2 linked regions of the Homo sapiens genome follow. The protein of the gene in region 1 purifies or fractionates together with the protein of each later gene. This does not show direct contact. Each region holds a gene or a part of one and is shown in the gene's direction. Other genes may lie near its edges.

What was found.
Region 2: the proteins of DNAJC1 (region 1) and RMND1 purify together in Homo sapiens (affinity purification with mass spectrometry; 2 studies listed by BioGRID and IntAct, with this or other methods). This does not show direct contact.

The regions. Positions count from the first base shown.
Region 1 is NC_000010.11:21,993,187-22,001,311, reverse strand, and holds part of DNAJC1 (dnaJ homolog subfamily C member 1 precursor), read left to right. Parts: intron 1-8,125. UniProt on the Homo sapiens protein: May modulate protein synthesis.
Region 2 is NC_000006.12:151,420,714-151,428,838, reverse strand, and holds part of RMND1 (required for meiotic nuclear division protein 1 homolog), read left to right. Parts: intron 1-1,256; coding exon 1,257-1,357; intron 1,358-5,207; coding exon 5,208-5,314; intron 5,315-6,233; coding exon 6,234-6,298; intron 6,299-7,517; coding exon 7,518-7,594; intron 7,595-8,125. UniProt on the Homo sapiens protein: Required for mitochondrial translation, possibly by coordinating the assembly or maintenance of the mitochondrial ribosome.

The DNA.
Region 1 (8,125 bases):
TTGGTGGAGACAAATGCAACCTGTCCAGGGTCTTTCATGTGTAGTTTTCAAGCCAGAGCCATTTGGTGACTAGCCAAACATGAGGGACCAGAACAAAGTAGGTAGGCTGCTGAAAGTGGTGACCTGGCTCTGTGCACTAATCTCTTCTTGTTCACGCAACAGAGATTTGTTTGGTGCCTATTGGATTTTAAGCATTGGGAGTTGACCTTTATATAAAACAAAACCCCTAAGCTTATAATTCAGTAGGGAGAAACAGACAGTAAACAGCCAAGTAAGTAAATATAAATGTTATATGGTCAGAGCAGGCCTCTGAGAGAAGTTAGGGAGTAAGCCATGTGGGTAATTGTTGTGTTGTAGGCCATTTGGGCTGCCATAGCAAAATGCCATGAACTGGACAGCTTTTCAACAGGAGAACTTGATTTCTCACAATTCTGGAGGCTGGGAAATCCAAGATTAAGGCACCGGCAGATTCTGTGTCTGGTGAGGGCCTTCTGGTCATAGATGGCACCTTCTTGCTGTGTCCTCACATGGTGGTACGGGCAGGGCAGCTCTCTGGGGCTTCTTTTATAAGGACACTAATCTCATCCATTAGGACTCCACCTTCGTGATATAATCACCTCACAGAGGCCCCACCTTGTATTACTGTCACAATGGGGATTAGATTTCAACATAAGAATTTCGAAGGACAAAAACATTCAGACCATAGCATGGTAGAAGGACATTCAAGGAAGAGCAGACAGTAAGCACAAAGGCCAGGAGGCAAGAGCTTGCTTAGCGTTTGAGGAATAGCAAGGCAGGCAGTGTGGCTGGAGCAGAGTGATCAAGGAAAACAGTAATGGGAGAACAGCAATAGGAGACAAGATCTGAGTCATAGGTGGTAAGGGAAGACCATGTAGGGCTTTGTAGGCCATTGTAAGGACTTCGGCTTTTACTTATAAGTAAGTTGGGGGAGGTGGTGTTTGAACAGAAAAGATACATGATTTGACTTGAATTTCAAAATGATCTCTTTAGTGTACTGAGTATAGTCTGTGAGGCATTAGTTACTTAGAGGGATAATTGTGGTATAGATTGGACCTGGGTGGTAGCAGTGGAGGTGGTGCAAAATGGTCAGATTCTGGATTGAATTTCAACATGGAGCAAACAGAATTTTACTGATGGCTTGAATGTGGTATGCGAGAGAAAAAGAGAAACTGAAGATAATTCTAAAGATTTTTGGCTTCAGTAACTGGAAGGATGCAATTGCCATTTGTTGAGATGGAGAAACCTGGACTAGGAGCCTGGTTTGGAGAACATCAGGAATTTGGTTTACGGACATGCTAAATTTGGGGTGTCTGTTAAACGTTGAAGTTGAGCTGGTATGTAGGCAATTGGTTATTCAGGTGTAGAGTTACAAGAAGAAAGTTTAGGGCTGTAGATAGGAATTTGGGAGTCCGAGGCACTTAGAGAGTAACTTGAAGCCACAAAACTGGATGAGTTCACCAAGGGAGTGAACGTAAAAGAGAAGAGAAGAGATCTGGGAGCTAATAAGCCTTGGGGATTCCAGACTTTAAGAGTCAAGGAGCCGGGTGTGGTGGCTCACGCCTGTAATCCCAGCACTTTGGGAGGCTGAGGCGGGTGGATCACGAGGTCAGGAGTTCAAGACCAGCCTGGCCAACATGGTAAAACCCCGTTTCTACTAAAAAGATAAAAATTAGCCAGGCGTGGTGGCAGGCGCCTGGAATCCCAGCTACTCGGGAGGCTGAGGTAGAGAACTGCTTGAACCCGGGAGGCGGAGGTTGCAGTGAGCCAAGATTGTGCCACTGCACTCCAGCCTGGGCGACAGAGCGAGACTCCGTCTCAAAAAAAAAAAAAAAAAAAAAAGAGTCAAGAAGATGGAGGGGAATCAACAAAGAAGATAGAGCAGGAACGACCAGTAAGGTAGGAGGCAAACCAATACAAGGTTCTCTTCAGTCAAGTGAAAAAAGTGTTTCAAAGACAAAGGGATCAGCTGGGTTAAATGATGATGATGATTCAAATAAGATGAGCTTTGAGACTTCACCGTTGGAATTAACCGTATGGCGGTCACAGGCTACCTCAGTAAGAACTGTTTTGGTGAAGTGGTGAGTTCAGTAGTCTGGGTAGATTGGGTTCAGGAGAGAATGAAAGGGAAGAATTGGAGACAATTAATATAGAACATTCTTTTGAGATATCCATATCCTAAACTAGAAGGCAGAGATGGTAGTGACTGTCTGTGGCATCTTCTTTATCCCCTTATCCACCAGGTATAAGATAACTCAGTTACTCTCTAAGCTCTATAATCTGAATAACAGATGACTTAGAACTTGGACCAGACCACCTTATGACCTTGGACAAGTTAGTTGCCTCATTTTTAGGACAGATGGTAGCTTTTTATTTTCTTCATAGTAAGGCACATAGTAAACACCTAAATATTTATTGAATCAAACATTATAAACATTGTAACTAAATGCAAACTGTAATTCCCCAAACAAGTAGTTGCTTGACAGTTTTTACTCAACAGATTTTACTTCTATGTAATCTTTCACAGCCTTCAGGCAGCAGAAGAATCTTCTTCCATGTATCCTTAGATTTCACGTCCATTCTAGAAGTCTAGAAAGGGGTTGCAGAAGTCTTTGTTGGGGGGTATATACAGATGATTTATTAGTCATTCATACCATGTTTAGAATGACTTTAATAATAGGGCACTCCAATTTGGATATTGCATCTTTTCAGAGGAGATGGGGGGAAGATGAGAGAGGAGTGTAGGAAAAAAGATGTGCTATTGAAAGATCTTTCGTTACCATCTTAAATTATAGGTTCCTGCACAGTATTTATATTTTGTGTAACAGCACCTGCTTCTCAGACACCTGTACTTCTTGTGGGGTCAGTGGCAATTCTGTATTTCTTTTTTTTTTTTTTTTTTTTGAGATGGAGTCTTGCTCTGTCGCCCAGGCTGGAGTGCAGTGGCGCGATCTTGGCTCATTGCAACCTCTGCCTCCTGGGTTCACGCGATTCTCCTGCCTCAGCCTCCCGAGTAGCTGGGATTACAGGCACCTGCCACCATGCCTGGCTAATTTTGTATTTTTAGTAGAGATGGGGTTTCGCCATGTTGGTCAGGCCGATCTTGCACTCCTGACCTCAGGTGATCCACCCACCTCGGCCTCCCAAAGTGTTGGGATTACAGGCGTGAACCACTGCGCCCAGCCTCTATATTTCTTTTAATTGTCTTTTGGGACCATGACTTTCCTTATCCTTTGTATACAGTAATTCTAGCCAACAGTAAACACTTCATATTCATTTAAAAAAATCTGTGAATTGAAATAATGACAAGCTAAATTATCTTAAATTTTGTAGTATTTACTTTATGCTGAAGTCAAGATTTGTCTTCATGGTGCCAGTCAGTCATTACAGACTTCTATTTATGTAGCTAGAAAATGTGCTTCATTCTCTTTCTCTCGTGTTTTATAACTAAATCCTTATATTCAAATGAATGCTGAAACTTGGTTAACAGAAGAAAAGCAGAAGAACAGGGATGTGCTTATAAAATATTTGGATTTTAATTTTTAGATAGGAATTAATAAACCTTTTAAGCTCATTCGGCCTGTATTTTCAAATGTACAGATTAGCTAGCCTGTTTAGAGGAGGGACAATTATTGCCCATTCATCCGTGCCCCATGGTTGGGAGGAACTTCCCTAAAAAAACACCACTGATCACTAGACCCATCTCTAACATCTTACCATGGCGGTGTGAGTTACCTTACTGGAGGGTGATTGCCTTTGCTCTGTTTTGCTTGATTAGGAAGAGCTGATCAGTCAGAAAGCTATGAGTAGTGGGAATCAGTCTCTTTGCACCTCTCTGCCCAGACCAGTAAGGCAATTATCCTAACCAGACTTACCCTTGAGCATACTGTCTCAAAGTCTAGAATGTAGAGGAGAGGGCACAAATTGCTAGCAAGCCCATTTGGCCATCACATTTAACCTGTATTCTTCAATAGCTGTATCAGTTATAAAGGTTCATCTCTTGTCTGCCCGACTCCTGTGTCCACTCAGTTTTTTGGATGGGAAAAACCAGTTAATGGGGCCTCCCTAAAGCCCATCACAGTCCTTTTTAGAAATGAAGATGATGATTTCATTCATGAATGATGGTGAATTTGTACTGTGATTATCAATTTTGTCCAGTGATTCTTGCAGTGGAATCCACTGAGCTTGTGGTGTTGAGTGTAGTTCAGTCTTTCTCTGTGGAGTCTATTCCTTTGTACATGTGTGTTGTGTAATAATAGCTTCCCCATTTTTATTGTAGAATCCAATTTTTTTTAATTTGGAGAAAGAGATACACAGAATCTAGAATGGTAGATAACCTTTCAGTCATTTATATTTCTGATGTAGGCATGCATAGCGTTAGAGCTGAATAAGTACTTGTTTAATTGTATACATCTTTGCATCAGATAGAATTATCATAAAATTAGTTTTCTTATGTACACACTCTTTTTGTGATATGTATAGTTTAGTGGAAGATGCCTGAGCCAATTTTATGGGATAAAGCAAGTCTATTGTGAAAATTTTGCCACATATAATCTAGAGCTGATGGAACAGAGACTTTCTTTTAGTTTTAAGTTTCCTTTTTCCTTTTATGCTATTCTCAGTTTTTTCTTTACACTAATTATGAGAACACTCTTAGAATATTGTATCTTTTGTTATTCATAGACAATAGCCTAAGTTGAACTGGGAAAGTGGAATGGCTTCTGCTATTACAATTATTCCTAGAAATATATTCTAAAACGTTATATGGGTTACCAGTTTACCTAGTGATTGGTTTAATGTGGTTAATTTCACAATCATATTTTGTTCAATGTTGAGAATAAAACAGAGGTTGAGGTTATTTGACTTGATTGCTGAGAGGAGAATTTATATGGCAGTTGTAAGTAATGCCAATAAAAGTTGTTTGATAAAATGCCTAGTGTCTGTAATAAACCTTTTCTCAGCTTTGTTATGCTCTCTCTCAGTGAACTGCTTATTCCATAAATGGTACTATGTGACTTTCAGAACTGTTTTCCACTGTGGGCATTATTGGGTCTGTTTAGACAGTAATGATACCAGTTAATTCCACCTAGTTGAAAACAATTCCAAAGCCTTTCTTACAGAGTTATACAAAAATAAAGGAAAGGAATTGCAGTGGAAAGAGAGATTTCTGATTGGATGAAGCAGGACCCTAGATCATTTTATAATGAAGTCACAGTCATATTTTCAAAAATCTTTATTTTCATCAAAACACTTAATTGTAAAAGATGGGCCCTATACTAATGAATGTAAAAATATGATTACATGTTTTAAATAACAGCATAGTATTTCATTTTAAGAACTGAATAGTTGATATTTGAGTATTACTTATATTTACTGAAATTTTTTGTCTAAGCGTGTCATAAGGACCTAATTAGAAATTTAATCTAGAATTTATGTTTCATTTCCCATCTTATGTAATACTAAATTAAGCAAGGTGAGGATTCATTCACCATATTTGATAAGTGTTTCTGATTACATCATCCAGCAACTGAAATCTCACATGTAACCAGGCATATTGCAAAAGCAAGGGCATGCCACGTTCTACATTTTTGTTAGAATATGTGTATAAAACAGTATACTTCATTATCAGATGGATGCCTGTTTTATTGCTACTGAGGCAGTAGGCATTAAGCTCTGTGCAGCTACACAGTTAACTAATATATTTGAGTTGCTTAATATTAAAGCTAATAATCTAAGATCAAGAATTAAAGGACATGCCATAGTATATGCAGCAGTGTTAAAATGGAGAAGAGCAACGTTAAGATGCCACTAAGAGCAAATACTAGAATTCTAAAATGACGTAATTTCCTTGGTTAAACACATTCTGGAATACATACAACTCCTGGTTATAGAAGGAAATAGAATTTTAAACTGTTACATGAAACTCAACTGTGGCCTGTATAGTGAGCAGTAGTCAAAATGAGTTATGACCAGAAAGAAAAAGATCATTGTTGCCATTTACTGGGAAAGTATGAATAGACCATGAAGAAATCTTAGGGTCCGTACACATGAGGAAGGTAGAAACTTCTTATTTCTAGTCAATACTTAAGGACTTTATTTATACCATTAAAACAGGTCAGGTTAAGGAATCTATTCCATGACCAACTGAATTTATACTTTAAAAAGAAACCTCTGACTTTTAGAAAATTTTTTTTAATTGCAAATCTTATTGGCAGTTATTTTCAATTACCACACTTTTCGTTAACAGATAAGATTACTATTTAGGTTCTTTTCTGACTTAAAGTGGTGCTTTGTATTGATAGTTGGTGATTAAGTTTGATTTGCGGAAGTTAACATGTATAAATATATATAATATATTAATATATAAGTATATATAATATAAATATATATAAAGTAGGAAGTCTGGAAATTGTGTTTTAATTATATCATACAATATTTCTTTATGGATCTTTTATATGTAGTAGGAAATAGACTTCTTGTGTGTTTTTTTGTTTGTTTGTTTTGAGACAGAGTCTCGCTTTGTCACCCAGGCTGGAGTGCAGTGGCGCGATCTCGGCTTACTGCAAGCTCTGCCTCCCGGATTCATGCCATTCTCCTGCCTCAGCCTCCCCAGTAGCTGGGACTACAGGCGCCCGCCACCATGCCTGTCTAATTTTTTTTTGTATTTTTAGTGGAGACGGGGTTTCACCGTGTTAGCCAGAATGGTCTTGATCTCCTGACCTCGTGATCCACCTGTCTCGGCCTCCCAAAGTGCTGGGATTACAGGTGTGAGCCACCGCGCCTGGCCAACTTCTTATGTTTAAAGCATTTTAGTTTAGACATTTGATAAAGTTCAAATGACAGCCATGTTGTGCAGTTCTATAGTAGTTTTACACAATCAATGAGTGACTTTTTATATCACACGTTTGGAAGTATATAAGATTTAACTTAAAGTAAATTAGATTGATTTTGCAAGTGTTTATTGTGGAAAGCTTCACAGTTTTTCAACATGCTGCTGTCTCTTAAAACATCACTGAAGCTTCTTGTTTTGAATTGCCTTCAAAGCTTGCTGCATATTCTTCACATTAGCCTCATTAGTAGTAAATCTTAAAGTTGGGTTTGATTTTTGGCTATAGCTAACAGTCATTTGGAGCTAAATTTGGTGACTAAATTAGGTTAGCAAGCTCGGATAAATACTTTGTATTGATAAAAAGATCTGAATATACATTTCATGTAATGCTGATAGACTGCCTTGAGGACTGTTCTCAAAGAAAAGTCCCAGAGAAGTTTTGAGTGATATTGACACAAAGTAATAAATCTGTAGCTTTACAAGGTAGTAGAAAGTATTAGAGCAAATGACTCTTGGACTACTTATTACTTCGTGGGTAGCAATTTTTTTAAAAAAAGTTTGCCCGCAGGATAAAAATGGGTAAAAAAAAAGTGATCTTAATTTTAGAGAAGTGGGAAAATATAGAGCTAGAAGAAAATATTTCAATTATCTGCCTGCTTTTAATATTAAAAACAAAGATCATGATAGTATTCATTATATATTTCTATAATAAAGCAAGTTAAAACCGAGTGGCAGAGGAATTAGAATAATGTTAGAGATAGAGGTAGTAGCTGAGAATACCACTGAGGAAGAAAGCAGGATACACATAGAAACGTATACAGAAAAAATGCATAAATACAAATATAAATGAAAATGGAGTAATATCTCCATCTTGTGGCCTTCTTTGGATATTGCTATTAAAAATGTTGAGGGGTTGTATTTTCACAACTGTAGGCATAAGTAAGAATAAAATATGAGACAGACGAAAACAAAATACGAGTCAGAGAGTTCTTGCAGTATTTTGCAGGGCCTTTTAAGACCGAGCTTCCCAATTGGTGTGCTGCAAGCATGCTGAGATAGTGATGCCCTGCCTTGAGCAGCCTTAACAGTTTCCTCCAGTGTGTCTTACAAATACAATTTTCTGTAACGTGCCATGGTATGAAAGAGGTTGGGAAAGCACTGCTAAGGCATGCAGTTCTGATGCTTTTCTTCCAGGGGAAAATTTATGAGCGAGAGGGTGCAGGTGTGTGTGCGTATGCATTTATATACTTATGTGTGTATAGTAAATATATTTATAAA
Region 2 (8,125 bases), on another chromosome or scaffold:
GTGTGGGCCAGGTGTGGTAACTCATACCTGTAATCGTATCACTTTGGGAGTCTGGGGTGGGAGGATCACTTAAGCTCAGGAGTTCCAGACCAGCCTGAACAACACAGTGAGATCCCATCTCTACAAAAAGTTTTTAGAAGTTAGCCAGGTGTGGTAGTGTGTACCTGTAGTCCCAGCTACTTGGGAGGCTAAGGCAGGGGGATCGCTCGAACCCAGGAGTTTGAGGCTGCAATGAGCTATGATTGCATCACTGCACTCCAGCCTGGGTGACAAGGTGAGACCCTGTCTGTTACATATATACATATTGTGTAAGTCCACATATCTTTTGATCTAGCAATTCCTAAAGAAGTATTCCCACAAAGCCATGAAGACCTTTGCACAAGTGTGGCACATCGCAACATTGTAATGGAGAGTAGAAAAAATTCCCCATGGAGGACACACCTAGGTTGGTTAAATAAATTGCAGTTCGTCTGTAAAGGAAAATAGTGTTGAAAATGTCATGTGCATAATATGATCCTATTTTACATAAAAAGCAGCATAAATATGTACATATATACACATAAAAAGTCTGGAAGGATATGCACCAAGTTTAATCATGGTTGCCTCTGGGGATTAGGATTTCAGTACAGAAGAGAGAAAGAGATGATCACCTCCCACACCTGTGTGGCTTAATTTTTTATTAGTATGTTGGGCTTTACTTTTTATTTTTTATTTATTTATTTTTTTGAGATAGGGTCTTGCTCTGTCACACCGGCTGACATTGGCTCACTGCAACCGCCACCTCCCAGGCTCAAGCCAGCCTCTCAGGTAGCTGGGACTACAGGTGTACATCACCACACCCAGATAATTTTTGTATTTTTTTGTAGAGACAGGATTTTGCCACGTTGCCCAGGCTGGTCTTGAACTTTTGAGCTCAAGGATCCACCCGCCTCTGCCTCCCAAAATGCTGGGATTATTAAAGAGATTTAAAGAATACAAATTATAATATTACTAGTGATTTTCCTTGGGTTGTGGGATAATGATAACCTTGATTTTCTTCTCCATTCTCATCTGTGTTTTCCAAATGTAAAAACAAATGAACATGTCATCCTGATTACTTTAATATCACAATGGATTTGATTTGCCTTTTCCTTAAAAACATGCAACAGAAATAATGCCTGTAAGTGTAATGAAGACTGTTATAAGCATTAAAATCATAACATACTTGAACTGAGGGAGTCAGTTATGATTTCAGATTAATCTTCCTTTTCTTCTAGATGAAGCATGTGATGAAAGTTCTAGAAAAACATGAAATTCAGCCCTATGAAATCGCACTGGTACACTGGGAAAATGAAGAACTTAACTACATAAAAATAGAGTAAGCAACTTTTCATCAAATTTATGAAAGGGGCACTTGGAATAAATTAGGTAAAGCAATAGAGGAGACAAATTATTATGCATATGGAAACTTTTTTTTTTTTTTTGAGACGGAGTCTCACTCTGTCGCCCAGGATGGAGTGCAGTGGCACAATCTCGGCTCACTGCAACCTCTGCCTCCCGGGTTCAAGCAATTCTCCTGCCTCAGCCTCCTGAGTAAGTGGGACTACAGGTGTGCACCACCACGCCCAGCTAATTTTTTGTATTTTTAGTAGAGACAGGGTTTCACCATGTTGGCCAGGATGGTCTGGATCTCGACCTGGTGATCCGCCCACCTCAGCCTCTCAAAGTGCTGGGATTACAGGCGTGAGCCACTGGACCTGGCCTGGAAACTTACTTTTAAGAAAAAAGTGGCCAGGCGTGGTAGCTCACACCTGTAATCCCAGCACTTTGGGAGGCTGAGGCAGGTGGATTACCTGAGGTCAGGAGTTCAGGACCAGCCTGGCCAACATGGTGAAACCCCATCTCTACTAAAAAATACAAAAATTAGCTGGTTATGGTGGCGGGTGCTTGTAATCCCAGCTACTCGGGAGGCTGAGACAGGAGAATTGCTTGAACCTGGGAGGCGGAGGTTGCAGTGAGCCGAGATCACGCCATTGCACTCCAGCCAGGGTGACAAGAGTGAAACTCCGTCTCAAAAAAAAAGAGGAAAAAGATTACTGGTACAAATACAAAGTCTAAACCATATAATAAATATTAGAAGATAAACATAATTTTTTGAACTTCTCAGGCTATCCACAAGTTAAAACAAGTCAGTAGTATAGCCCCAAAATGGAAATGTTAAGTTTCTAATCAGCCTAATCCAATAAAATAGTATGCATTTATCAAATGAACCTATCAAATTATTCCAGTAAATTTTTCTCTTAATCCAGTTTTTTCCTATTGATTTTGGGGGGTGGGGGTATGAAAAGGAAGTATAGTGAGGGGTCAATCTAAGAGACCCACTTGTAGAAGTGTGGGTGCTGGAAGAAGTGGGACCTGGTGTACCAGTTTCACTAAGATAAATGGGTAGGCAACAGACTAGCTGATTTTCCTGACTCAGCCAGAGGGAAAAAATGAAGAGATGTTAGGGCCGAGACAGAGGCAGTATGAACAAGATGGTAGTGTCTTTTTCCTCATGGAGTTACCTGTCTAGTGAAATATGAGTCTTTGCAGGTTCTTAAGAAAGGTAGTGTTAGCCAGATTTGGTGGCTCACACCTGTAATCTCAGCACTTTGGGAGGCCAGGGTGGGAGGATCAACTGAGTCAGGAGTTCAAGACAGCTTGGCCAACATGGCGAAACCCCATCTCTACTAAAAATACAAAAATTACCCGGGCATAGTGGCGAGTGTCTGTGATCCCAGCTACTTGGGAGGCGGAGGCGGAGGCAGAGAATTGCTTGAACCTGGGAGGCAGAGGTTGCCATGACCTGAGATCGCACCACTGCACTCCAGCCTGTGCAACAGAGTGAGACTCTGTCTCAAAAAAAAAAAAAAAGCGTTAAAAGCAGAGCTTTGGGAAGACTTGGAAGAGAGACAGAGACTAGCTATAGAAAGACCAGATGGGGATAAGAGCTGAGTAATCAGCGCTCACCACCAATAGGGCCAGTCACGGTTTTCTAAGTAAGTGCCTTCCATGTATTATTTCATTTAATCCTGGGGAAAACCCTATAATTGCAGCTAACTGGCTTTCCGATGAGATTTATTGAATCCTGTCTTGCCAAAGGGCACCTGACTGTGAGTCAGCCTGAGCCCAGTGGTGGCTGCAGTCAGAGGTAAGGATATAAACCTGAGAGAGACAGCAAATGAGCAGCCTGTAGTTTTATTATCTTTAGTAGTTACTCAGCCCTTGGCCTGCAGATACAGCTCCTGTGAATCCCCTTTCTGTGTTCTATTAGGTTTACATTAAAATGGCAAAAACCGCGATTACTTTTGCACCAACCAAATACTTCCATATCCAACTACTGCTAGACCCTTGTGTGTGTGTGTGTGTACGCTTATCCACACACACACACACACGTTACTGTACAGTCTGTGAGGAGTAAAATCCTCAGTGCTTAGGATCCCAGAGTCAGTTATTTTGTTTCGTCAGAAAGACTGTCCTGGCTGCCACCTACATGGTTATTATGTGAGTTCTGCCATGATTCCAGGGATCTGCTCAGCTCTGTGGCATGGGCCCAGTTTACTCATAAAGCATCTTGTGACCAAGCACAGTGGCTCATGCCTGTAATCCCAACACTTTGAGAGGCCAAGGCGGGCAGATCACTTGAGGTCAGGAGTTCAAGACCAGCCTGGCCAACATGGTGAAGCCCTGTCTGTACTACAAATATAAAAATTAGCTGGATGTGGTGGTGCACTCCTGTAATCCCAGCTACTCAGGAGGCTGAGGCAGGAGAATCGCTGGAACCCAGGAGGCGGAGGTTGCAGTGAGCGAAGATCACGCCACTACACTCCAGTCTGGGTGACAGAGCAAGACTCCGTCTCAAAAAAAAAGACCTCTTGTGACTGCTGTCTTTGCTTTCCTTCCTCCATCTGAGGCTGTCATAGCAGATGCCGCCCTCCATCAGGCCCCTTGTCCCCCTCCCTTTGGCCGTCACTTCTTGTCTGACATCTTTTGTGAAGGTTTACCCTGTCTTTTTTCCATTTGCTTGTGATGTTTATATTCACACATTCCGCTCTTCCCCTGTCCCCTGTCTAGGATTCTCCACAGTCACATACTCATTTTTCACAACTTCCTTGCCTCCCTCCCCAACCCCATCATGTCAGTGTGATTTTAGATTACACTCCATATATAGTTTTATATGCAGCATTTTTTCACATAGAAATTTACTGTGAACGTTCTCCTTTTTATTAACTATCCTTCCAAAACACACTTTTAAGTTTTTCTTGTGTGGAGTGACTATTACTGAGCCAACCCCTACTGAACATTTGGTTTATTTCCTAATTTTTTACTCTTAAACACTGACCTTTTTTTTTTTTTTGGAGACAGAGTCTTGCTCAGTCTCCCAGGCTGGAGTGCAGTGGCGTGATTTCGGCTTACTGCAAGCTCCGCCTCCCGGGTTCACTCCATTCTCCTGCCTCAGCCTCCCGAGTAGCTGGGACTACAGGCGCCCGCCACCACACCCGGCTAATTTTATTTTGTGTTTTGAGTAGAGACGGGGTTTCACCATGTTAGCCAGGATGGTCTCAATCTCCTGACCTCGTGATCCACCTGCCTCGGCCTCCCGGAGTGCTGGGGTTACAGGCGTGAGCCACCGTGCCCAGCCAACACTGACCATTTTTTTAAAAGTTTTCAGCTGGGCAAGGTGGCTCGCACCTGTAGTCGCACCACTTTGGGAGGCCGAGGTGGGTGGATCATTTGAGGTCAGGAATTCAAGACCAGCCTGGCCAACATGGTGAAACTCTATCTCTATTAAAAATACAAAAAAAATTAGCTGGGTGTGGTTACGCATGCCTGTAATCCCAGCTACTAGGGAGGCTGAGGCAGGAGAATCGCTTGAACCTAGGAGACTGAGGTTGCAGTGAGCTGAGATCGCACCACTGCACTCTAGCCTGGGCGGCAGAGTGAGACTGTCTCAAAAAAAAAAAAAAAAGTTTTCTTGTATACAAATTTTTCTTTGCATCTTAGATTATTTCCTTAGGATAAACTCCTAGAAAGGGAATTACCTGGACCAAAGGATATGAGAACATTTGTAACACTCTTGATACAAATTGTCAAAATGACCTCCAGAAAGATGATATGGTGTCTTTTTCAAAGGAAAAGTTAAAGTGCTTTTTAAGATTTAGAAGGTATTATCTTTTTGCTTTTCACAGGGGACAGTCAAAACTTCACAGGGGGGAAATCAAGTTAAATTCAGAGCTGGATTTAGATGATGCCATTCTAGAGAAGTTTGCTTTCTCCAATGCTCTATGCCTTTCTGGTAAGTTACTACTGCTTATGGGATAGGGTACTACAGTTGTCATTTCACTGAGGGAAGTTTAAATAGTCACGATTTTGGTATATTTTCAGAATACTCAACAAAGCCTTAGCATTCCTTTTCCTTTTTTTCCCTCCATCAGAAAAAATATCTAGTATAAAAGATAGTACTGTGCTGAAGTTACTCATTCCTTATTAATTGTATTAATAAAGCTTAACCTCTCCAAAAGTATTTTTTAGATGATGATTATATTAGCCTTTGTTTTTTTCTCTTCTCTCTATGCGATTGTTATTCTTAGATAGTCTCTAATCCAGACAGAGAAGCCCAGCCTTGTGTGACTGGGCACAGGTCCCAGTGTAGAAAAACATACTCTAGTGTTCCATAGGAATGGGACCCAGAGTCACAGTGGCTATAAGTTTGTTCTGAAAGATCCACATCCCGAATAAAACTATACAAGTTCTTTAAGAATTTCTTTTGCCAGCAGTCTACCTTAGGTGGCTGCTGCAGCGTCCTGTCCATCCCACTCTGAGGGGCTTCGGAGATTTCTGAGGTTTACTCTTAGTCCTGAGGAGTGAAGGGGAGGCCAGGAAAGTCTTAGTCGCGCCCTATCTGCAGAGCTACCCATGGTATCAAGGTGTACCCTACCCTCCTCAGTTTCCAAGATGTAATACTAGAAAATCAAGAGTTCTACTAAATGTAGCTTTGGTCTTCCAATAGGGCATGGAAAGCGATTCAGTTTCCTCTATCCACTTTAATTCTGTCCTTTATGATAATTAACTATTCTTAAATTATATTTTCAAGGTTTTAGTACTTTTTCTTAAACTATTACTGAAATAGTAGTGAAGATGCTGTGCAATTATGTATTTTATATACATGTGAATATGATGATAAAGAAATGTTCCATTATTAATTTTTTTCCCAGTAAAACTGGCAATTTGGGAAGCATCACTGGATAAATTTATTGAATCTATTCAGTCAATTCCTGAGGTAATTATATCAATTTTATGCTTATTCAAGGATTGATTTTTATATGTAAAAAATATGAATTTCCCAATATAACAATATATAGCTATCCATCAGTATCCATGGGAGATTTGTTCCAAGACCCCACTGGATACCAGAATCTACCAGTGTCCAAATCCCTGATATAAAATGGTATATATTTGCATATAACCTATGCATATCCTCATGTATACTTTCAACCATCTCTAGATTACCTAAAATACCTAATATAATGTAAATACTATGTAAATAGTTGTTATACTGTATTATTTAGGAAATAATAACAAGAAAAAACAGTTTGTACATGTTCGGTACAGATGCAACCATTCTTTTTTCTCAAAATACTGTCAATTTGCAGTTGGTTGAATCTGCAGTTGCAGAACTTATAGAGGGCCGATTGTTTAGGAGTACAACAACATTATTACAAACAATAAGAAAACTACAGTAAACTTAAGAACTCCCAGTTACATATAAAATGACAAATTAAGAAACTTCATATTGATTACTTTTTACTTTTTAAAACTTCAAATTGTTTCCTCTGTTGGTGCAGTATTTTTTTTTTAATATTAATATAATTGAAATGGGGTCTGGCCATGTTGCCCAGGCTGGTCTTGAACTCCTGGGCTCAAGCGATCCTCCTGCCTCGGCCTCCCAAAGTTCTAGCATTACAGGCCACGAGCCACCATGCCCGTCAGTTGCAGTATTTTTAATGTAACTGAATTAAAGAAAAAAGTGAAATGTTTCTCTCTGAGAATGGAAATTATGACCACTTTTCCTGATTTAAGAAAGTGTTTTGCTAAATTATGAGAAAAATAGTGGTATGAAAAATACATATAAAGTTATATTGAAATTTCAGTATACATTAAAAATCATCATATTGTAATTAACTGTGTCTTTATTGTGAAAGAGTAATCTAATTATACTTCGGAAAGGAGGCCCTGCTTTTCTACTAAGAGATTAGGAATGTATATATCATTGAAAATGCTGATGAGAAGGGAAATGAAAAAAGAGAATATACAATTTCTACCTAATAAAATTATGAAATTTCAAGGTGAGTTAAGACATTAATCTGGGAGACAGCCATCCTAAAAAATATTTACATAGGATCCAAATTATGCCACTTCAGATTTTGCCCTGTTGACCTAATGCTTATTAGAAAGAGAGATACATGGTTTTTTGGTTTTTCCGATTCCCTCTCAACTAGGCTTTAAAAGCTGGGAAGAAAGTGAAACTATCTCATGAAGAAGTTATGCAGAAAATCGGTGAACTCTTTGCTCTAAGGTAAAAGTTTTCTCTCTAAATAAAATATTTCATATATTTAACAATCTCAAGAAAACATTCCCATAGTTCTGTGGTGAAGAGCAAACATTTACACGTTTATGGGAACTGTAGCTGTTTTCATTTCATTGATTATAAGCAGGGAGAACTCTTACCCATTAGAAGTAGTTGGGCTGTGTTAAGACTGTACTGAAAGAAATCACGCATGTGCAAAAGAGATCACGATTCATCTACATTAAACCCACATTAAGGAGCACAGTAGGTGTTCTTTGAAGGTAGAAAGACATATTCCTGAATTTGGTTAATGGGAATTCTCTGTAAAAATATATCACTGCATCATAATGCTAAATAGGCTTAATTGCTACAGAAAAGTTTCTTTGAATCTGAGACACCAAGATGCCACTGGAGAGAAAAACTGCTGCCAGTTAAACTATGACAATACTTTTTTTATCAGAGGATTAAAATTTTACACTTACTGAAATATCTTTTAATCTTAGCTGGATATAAATTATATCACATTCCCTCTTGGGCATA